2 linked regions of the Homo sapiens genome follow. The protein of the gene in region 1 interacts with the protein of each later gene in a pairwise test. Each region holds a gene or a part of one and is shown on either strand. Other genes may lie near its edges.

Region 1 (3,751 bases):
TTCATTTCACTCTGTAGGAGTTAAGCTGTGGCTCAGCTTCTCCCTTTTTCCTTCCTCCATCTCATTTTCCCCAAGTCCTCTGGCCTGGCTTCCACCTCCCAGATCCTCTGTCCAAGAGCGGGTTTGGAGAGGCAGCCAGTGTTCCCATTTCAGCTGCAGGATGGCATAGTGGAATGTTGGGGGAGTCACACATTGCTGGGGTGTCAAATGTTGGGATGTCAGGCAGTGGCTTATTTTTAACCCATTAAACACCAAGCCACAGCAGATGACCACATGCAGAGAAGCCAAGCAGGGGATGAGAAGGGATCAGGATAATTGAAATGGGGTGAGTAAAAACTTCAAAGAGTCAGGGAGTTTGGAAGAATTCTGGCATTGGGGCTTGGGCTCTCCTTGCCGTTTTGTGCTGTCTGGACACAGCCCTGGGATGTGAATGGTATAAAGCAGGGTCTGGGGGATAAGCTCCTTTCTCCTCTCACCAGTCTATTGGTCTAAAGAGCTTCAAGTTTTAAATTGAGACATTCAGATACTGAGGGAAGCAGTAGAACAGTATAGCAGTGGGATACCCCCAGGACCCTGCTAGAACTCAGACCCTGGTGGTTGAGGAGATGGGGGATGGGAAATGGAGGAAAGGGTGCAGCTCTGGGCACCTCACTGACGGTATCCTGCCCCAGGTCACATAAATTACTATTGGAAATCCCTCCCAGGATGCCAAATAAATAGATTGAGATAAAGAGGTCCCTGGAGTTGGGGATATAATCTCCCTCTACGAGGGAGGAGGTTGCTCTCTGAGACCCATCCTCAGTCCCCATTCAATACCAGCATTTGACAGTGCTAGGAGAGGGTTCTCAGGCATCAGATGCTATCCTATTCTAATTTGTCCCCTCCCCCATCCTCTCCCTGTTAACTTTGGTTTGAGACACCTCACAGGAATGGATGATGGGGAGGGACAACCCCTCCCATTTAGCCCAGCCCAAGTCCCCACAACAAGACATCTCCCTCCCCTCCCCCTAGCTCCCATCTCCCTCAACCCCAAAGGACTCAGCAGTAGCCATTCTCTAAAGGAGCTGGGGGAGTGGATCCTTGGGGAAGGGAGGGCGGCTCTTTCAGAACTCAATCTTGCAGGCAGGGAAGGACTCATCCTGCATCACCACGGTGCTGCTGCTAGCCAGGACCAGGACATTCAGTTGTTGCTGCTGCTCATGAGTTTGTTGGTACCACTCACGAGTCACCTCCGTGTCATGAGTAGGGATCAGAGTCACCTAGAAGGGAGATAAGATATGTCTGATGTGAGAACATAAAGGGAAGGTAGGTGAGGGGGAAGGGGCACCTCATGGTCTCAGAAGCAGCTCTGCTGCCCTTAGAAAAGGCCCATCCTTTAATAAATAGGGACTGTGTTCCACTACTGCCTCTGAGTGAGCGTTGACCAGACTACTTCCTTGGTGTCCTTTGCTACTCACCTGAAGATTCTCCCCCCACTGGGCCTTGCCCTCCAGCAGGGCATCCAGCACAGCCCGGCTTGGCTCGCCATTGGCAGGGTCATTCCCACTGACCACATAGTAGGATGCACGCACTCGACGGAAGAAGTCAAGGTCAGCAGTCTTGCCACTGCAATGATTCGGGATGTAGGCGAGATCCACATATACAGGGGCACCAGAGCTGCCCTTGGAACTCAAGGCCACTGTAGAGACAAGCCAGGATTCATTGTAGAGGAAAAGTAGAACCCTTTTGGCAACCTTCCCCTCTGTCCCACTCCTGAAGTCTGACCAGCCCACACCCAGCCCTAACCCACACTCTCTGCCAAGTTTCATGATATACTTACTTGGTCCTGCCTTGAGTCCATTGACTAGGCCTTTGGACATGGGGCTGTGTCCATCCTTTTCCTCTGCTGGGGTGACCTGGCTTGTGGTGCTGCGTGGTCGAGGTGGGGCCCGGGATGCTCGATCTGCAGGCCCTTTACCAGGGGTGGGTGAGCGTTTTCCCCGAAGATCCAGACGCCGTGCAGGGGACGCTGGCTTGGCCTTGCCTGGGGCCCTGCGCCCTACTCGCCCCTGAACCTTTTCCTTCTCCCGTAGCCTCTCTACTCTCCCAGACTCTGAGCTGAGCCCCTCGGGGTCAGCCATGCACACATCAGGGCGGGGAGGGGATGGGCGGGGGTCTGGCTGTGGGAGAGGAGGTGGGTCATGGCCAGGCCTGGGGTGGTGAGTACCACTGACACCCCCAGCTTTGTCCACAGGTAGGAAGTCTCCATCTTCATCTGAGTCGAGGGCTGCCTCAGCTGTGATGGACGGACACTCCTCAGTTTCTGGCGGGACATCAGAATCTGACTGTGAGGAGCCTGAGTCACTGGCTGATGTAGGGGGTGTCTCATCAGTCACAGGGCATGGGCCCCCAGTGGTCCCTGGCCCCCCTACCCGGCGCCGCCCCCCTCTTCCTACTAGCCGAACTTCCTCAGTTGAGAGGTCCCTATCATCTATGGATGGGGGCAGAGGTGGGTTCAGGAAGGATGGGGAGAGCTCCCCACGATGGGGCCGAGGCTCAGTGGCACATCCCTGGGGCCCAGCTTCGACCTCAGGAGAGGCACTGCTGGGTGGGCCCCCGGAGCCCCCTGCAGGACACACTGGCTGCTCAGGGGAGAGCAATGTGTCAGGCCGGGAGCTCCTCTCAGCTCCTTCAGGCCAGGCCCCACGTTCCCAGGCAGGGCAAGCCGCAGCCTCTTCATTTTCAGCCTTGGCTGGGGCAGGGCCTGGGGGGTTAGGGCTGGTTTCAGTTGGGCCATTGGCTGCACAATCCTCAGAGGGAACCTGGAAGGGGCTTGGCTTCTCCGTGGCTGCCTCTGAGCACTCCAGGTGGCACGGCAGGATGCCATCACCCATGTCTCCAGGCAGGCTTGGAGCTGGAGCTAGGGCCAAGTCCAGTGAAGCTGGGGGTGCTGGGCTCAGAGGAGTGAGGTCCCAGAGGCTGTGGGCAGCTGGTTCCATTCCTGGGTCCAGCTCTCCAGACTCCTGTTCTGCAGCCTCAAGGCTTGGAGAGAAGCGCTCCGCCACACTTGAAATCACAGGCGTGGTAGCCTCAGAGGAGGAGCCCTCAGACAGGGCTGGTGAGGCAGGTCGTGGCAGATTGGAGAGGAGAGGGGCCCCAGGAGAACTGGGTGATGGGAGCTGGGGCAGTGAGGAATCCAGGCTGGGGGCCTTGGTCACTTCCAGGTATTCATCATGCCGGGTTCTGGTGGGGGGTCCTGGAGCCAGAGCCAGAGCTCGATCCCCAGAGAAGGCAAGGGAGCCACAGGGTGCCGAGCGGGGTTCAGCTGGAGAGGGCAGCTGTGGGGGAGCTGGCTGCAATGAGGAGAAGCCAAAGGCTGAAGCAGGGAAGTCCAGACTGGGTCGGGCAGGCCCCAGGTGTGAGTCCAAGGGAGGGCTAACATGTGCCTCAGTTTCTGGCCATAATGTGGGGGACCCCATAGGAATGGGGTGAGGAGGACTTGGGGATTGGGCCTCTTTTTCTGGCTGTTCCCGAGCCCCCTTCTCCAGTTCTGAGTCACTAGTGCTGTCATCCCAGTGACTCCGGCCTGATTCCTTGGGGGATGGGGACCTCCTATCTGGGCTGCAGCTCAGGATGTTACCATTAAGAGGGGGGCTTGGGCCTTTGCTCAGGATAGGAGCACGGGGGGGAACTGCAGGTGGGGTGAGGCTGGGCTCCATACTTGGCCCTGGCTCTGGCCTTGGGGGTACAGTGGGTCCTGCCAGGGCTGCAT
Region 2 (3,751 bases), on another chromosome or scaffold:
AATAAAATTTTCACTATTTATAGCTATTTTTATTTACAGCAATAGGTAACCAACTCAATCCCATGTCATCAATGAACAGCATAGCAGCAAGGTTTCCACTTGAAAATAGAAGTTAATTTAGATTTACTTAGGGCTTCATAATTATACAATAAAAGTGAATCATTTTAAAGACATATCATTTACAATGTTATAAATAAGTATCAGAAAGCTCACAGCTGAAATGCTGTCAGAACATTTTCCAAGCACACATTTTGTAGCATTGAACCCCGCTTTTCATTGACAGAATAAAATGAGGCATACAGATATGATCGTTGGTTCCACTAGACTTGTCTAATTTTTTCCAATCTCATATTTTTTTTTTTCCAGATAGGTGAAAACTTGCTCAGTGTGCCTTCCACAGTTGCCACGGCAACTAGCCTATCACACACAGCTCACCTTTTCATTCACTCCGTCGCTATTGTCTTTAGAAGCCTCTTCAGAATGCTGCTTTCCTAGAGCAACCATTGAGCAGTCATTATCTGTTGTCTTGGCATCTTGCTTTGAATTCTTTTTTTGTCCCATTTGAAGTTGGCTAGACTTGTAGGCCAAAGCCGGTATTGTGTTCACTAAAATTAACTGCAATGGTTTTTTGTTTTCCTTGTACTGACACTGAATATACCGTGAAAAGGCTGACCTATAGGTCTTGTTGAACAGTGTGTAGACTAGTGGGTTGACTGCTGAAGAGAGATAACCGATCCAAACAAACACATTGAGCAGGGCCCCAATGACATCCTCATTGCAGGACTCTTTGCAGATGACGGCCATGATGTTTGTGATGAAGAAAGGGCACCACATCACCACAAACAGGAAGAAGACGATGCCCAGCACCTTGCATGCCTTTTGCTCATTGCTGATGGACTGCATAGTCCTCCTGCCTGTGTAGGACCCTGGCTCCCTATGGATCGACCGCTGGAAGAGCTTTTCTGAAGACAAAGAACTCTGAGGGAGGAAGCTGAAAGAAGCTAATTTGGCCCGTGTGCCAAGATCACTTACACACAAAGTAGCTTCTTTCTGGAGTGACTTGATAGTTAGAAAGTAGGTGATCACCATGATGGTTAAGGGAATGAAAAATGACACAAAAGAGCCGATCAGGACAAAGTTATCATCGGCGAGTAAGCAACTCCCCTCCTTAAAGACCTTCGAATCGTCCTGTAGCCCAAAGACTGGTATTGGCATGGATATACCTGGAGTTGAACAGAAAATGAAACATGATTATTAAGGAATTAAGTATATGAAGGCAAGAGCATCATCACATAATATTGGCTATTGAAAAGATTTTATATCATCGTTTAAAAGCTTAACATACTTTGAGAATTTAAAATTCCTTTGGACTTACATATGTGTTTTGTAAGTATATATTATGTAGTTACTTGTATGTTATATTGCCCTATATAGCTAACCCTTATAAAGAAGTATAATAAATCTAGCTTTATTTTTTATGCCACATTTTTCTGATTATAATATTATACTTATTAATTGAAGAAACACACAGAGAGGCAAATAAACTAAAAATTGTCCAATAACGTCACCATCTAGAGATAGCCACAATTAACAACTGATGCTGTTCATTTTATTTATTTATATATTTATTTATTTTTGTCTATGAAAATCTAGAATATAGATTTGTTTCTTTTTTTGATGCTGTTCATTTTAGATACATTCACACACTTACCATGTGCACACATTTTAAAACAGAATTGAGGTTCTTTTTCACAAATAGTTCTGTATCTTTTTTAAAAAATCTAATAATATGTCACAAGCATGGCTTATATATAAAAATAACTATAAAATTTTAAATATAGTTTATTTTCTCTCTAGAAAATTTGGGAGGTACAAAAATGTAACAATGAATAAAGAAAAATAATATGTATTCTCACCAGTCAGGGGCAACCATAATTTACATTTGCATCATTTCTTCTTCCACTTACATGTACATATAAAAGCAAATGTGTATATGCAGTACTTTACATGCAGTACTTTGTACCTTATATGTTTTAGATCTTCCTATTCCATTTAACATTATAAATCATGATAATTGCACATAAAATATTTTTGAGAAATACAATTTTCTAATATTAATTTAAAATAACCAATTTTAATTCTTTTTAAAAAAGCTTTTATTATGGGACATTTTTAACATACACACAACTAACAAACCAAAAACCAAACCCAGTACAGTGAACTCGTCACCCAGCTTCAAAGATTATCAGCTCAAGCCCAATCTTGTTTCATCCATATGTCCTCTGGCTGCCATCCCTCCCATGTTATTATGAAGCAAATCCTAGACATCATGTCATTCAATCTGAAAATATTTATTACGTAGATCTAAAAGCCATGCACTCTTAGACAAACCTAATATTTTCACAATACCATTCTCACTCCTAAATAGAAGTTTAATATTTCCTTAATATTAAATGTAGAGTTAGTGTTCAAATTTCCAATTGTCCCATAAAGGTTGTTCTATGTTTTTAGTAGTAGAGCATTCATAAGGATGGATTGCAAAAAACAAGACAGCCATAGACTTTTTATTGACAAATATAAAAAGTAGGTATAGGATGAGATAATACAGGGGAACATGGGCCTATATGGTTCATTGCTCCATCACCCAGATTTGGGGGATCTGTAAGGCTCCCTCAGGTACAGGGATTAGGCAGAGGAGGAAGCAGAAGTGAATAAAGGCAACCCCTGGCCTCTAATCATGCTATGTGCCCCACTTGATGATAGGACCTTTTTAAAGGAAGATTCAACTGGCCATGTTGTGCAGTTTCACCACCCAGCCCCCACCATGGACAACCTCTCTGCTCCTGGGGAAATAGGTGTATCTTTCTCTACTGGCCTGGGATGGTTGGTCCAAGGCAATCATGAGATGGCTTATTCTCTCTGCCATAAAGGTAGAATCAGGATGATAAAAAAGAGAGGAAACATGAATCAAGTACTCTGTATAACTTAGTTTAAGATTGTTTCTTTCATGAAATGGTAGATATTGCAGGGACAGCCTGGGAGAAAAAGTCAGAAAAATAGTTCCCTTCTAACTCCTGCCCATATTATCAGCACACTCAGAATTGTAGAACAAAGAGTGTTGTGGTTACTGCTTCTGACCGTCTTTAGAGTCTAATACATGGTCTCACACCAGCCAAGAACACCGGTTTATTCCAGAATTGGGGGCCACTGCCTCACTCTTGCCATCCATCTGGAAAAAGGTTTTTGGAGAATCTCTAATCTAACTTCTGCATACTCAGAACAGAGTTCCGCTTCATCCAAGCACAGGCATGACTGTCCTAACCTCATGTCACCTCACATTGGCCATCGTGGCCAGGAAAGAACGCTGAGTTGATGTAATATTCAACACAAATCTTTCTTAGTGACATTTGCCATTATCTTCAAAGACTTAATTAACAATATTTGTCACTTGCCTATGCAAGCCCATCCAGGATTCTTGGAAGGTGGAGATAAATGACATCAGAGCTGTTCATAAGGACACTTATTGTGGCTAATGACTCTTCATTTCCTCCATCCCTCTCTGTTCCTGGCCCATTGTTTGCAACATTCAAGAAGAGATTGATGAGCTGTGCCTCCAAGGAGAACATCCTCTGAGACCCTGGATATTGACCAGTTTTGCTTATCCTTCGGAAAACTCTTGATTGTAAAAGTAAGGGCATGATTTCTAAGAAGAGTGTTTTTCTCCCAGTGTTTGAATCTAGATCTGTGAAAG

What was found.
Region 2: the proteins of MAP1A (region 1) and HTR2A interact in a two-hybrid assay, tested with the Homo sapiens proteins (one study listed by IntAct).

The regions. Positions count from the first base shown.
Region 1 is NC_000015.10:43,527,577-43,531,327, reverse strand, and holds part of MAP1A (microtubule-associated protein 1A), read right to left. Parts: coding exon 1,820-3,751; intron 1,679-1,819; coding exon 1,458-1,678; intron 1,260-1,457; coding exon 1,104-1,259; 3' UTR 1-1,103. UniProt on the Homo sapiens protein: Structural protein involved in the filamentous cross-bridging between microtubules and other skeletal elements.
Region 2 is NC_000013.11:46,834,417-46,838,167, forward strand, and holds part of HTR2A (5-hydroxytryptamine receptor 2A), read right to left. Parts: intron 1,224-3,751; coding exon 421-1,223; 3' UTR 1-420. UniProt on the Homo sapiens protein: G-protein coupled receptor for 5-hydroxytryptamine (serotonin).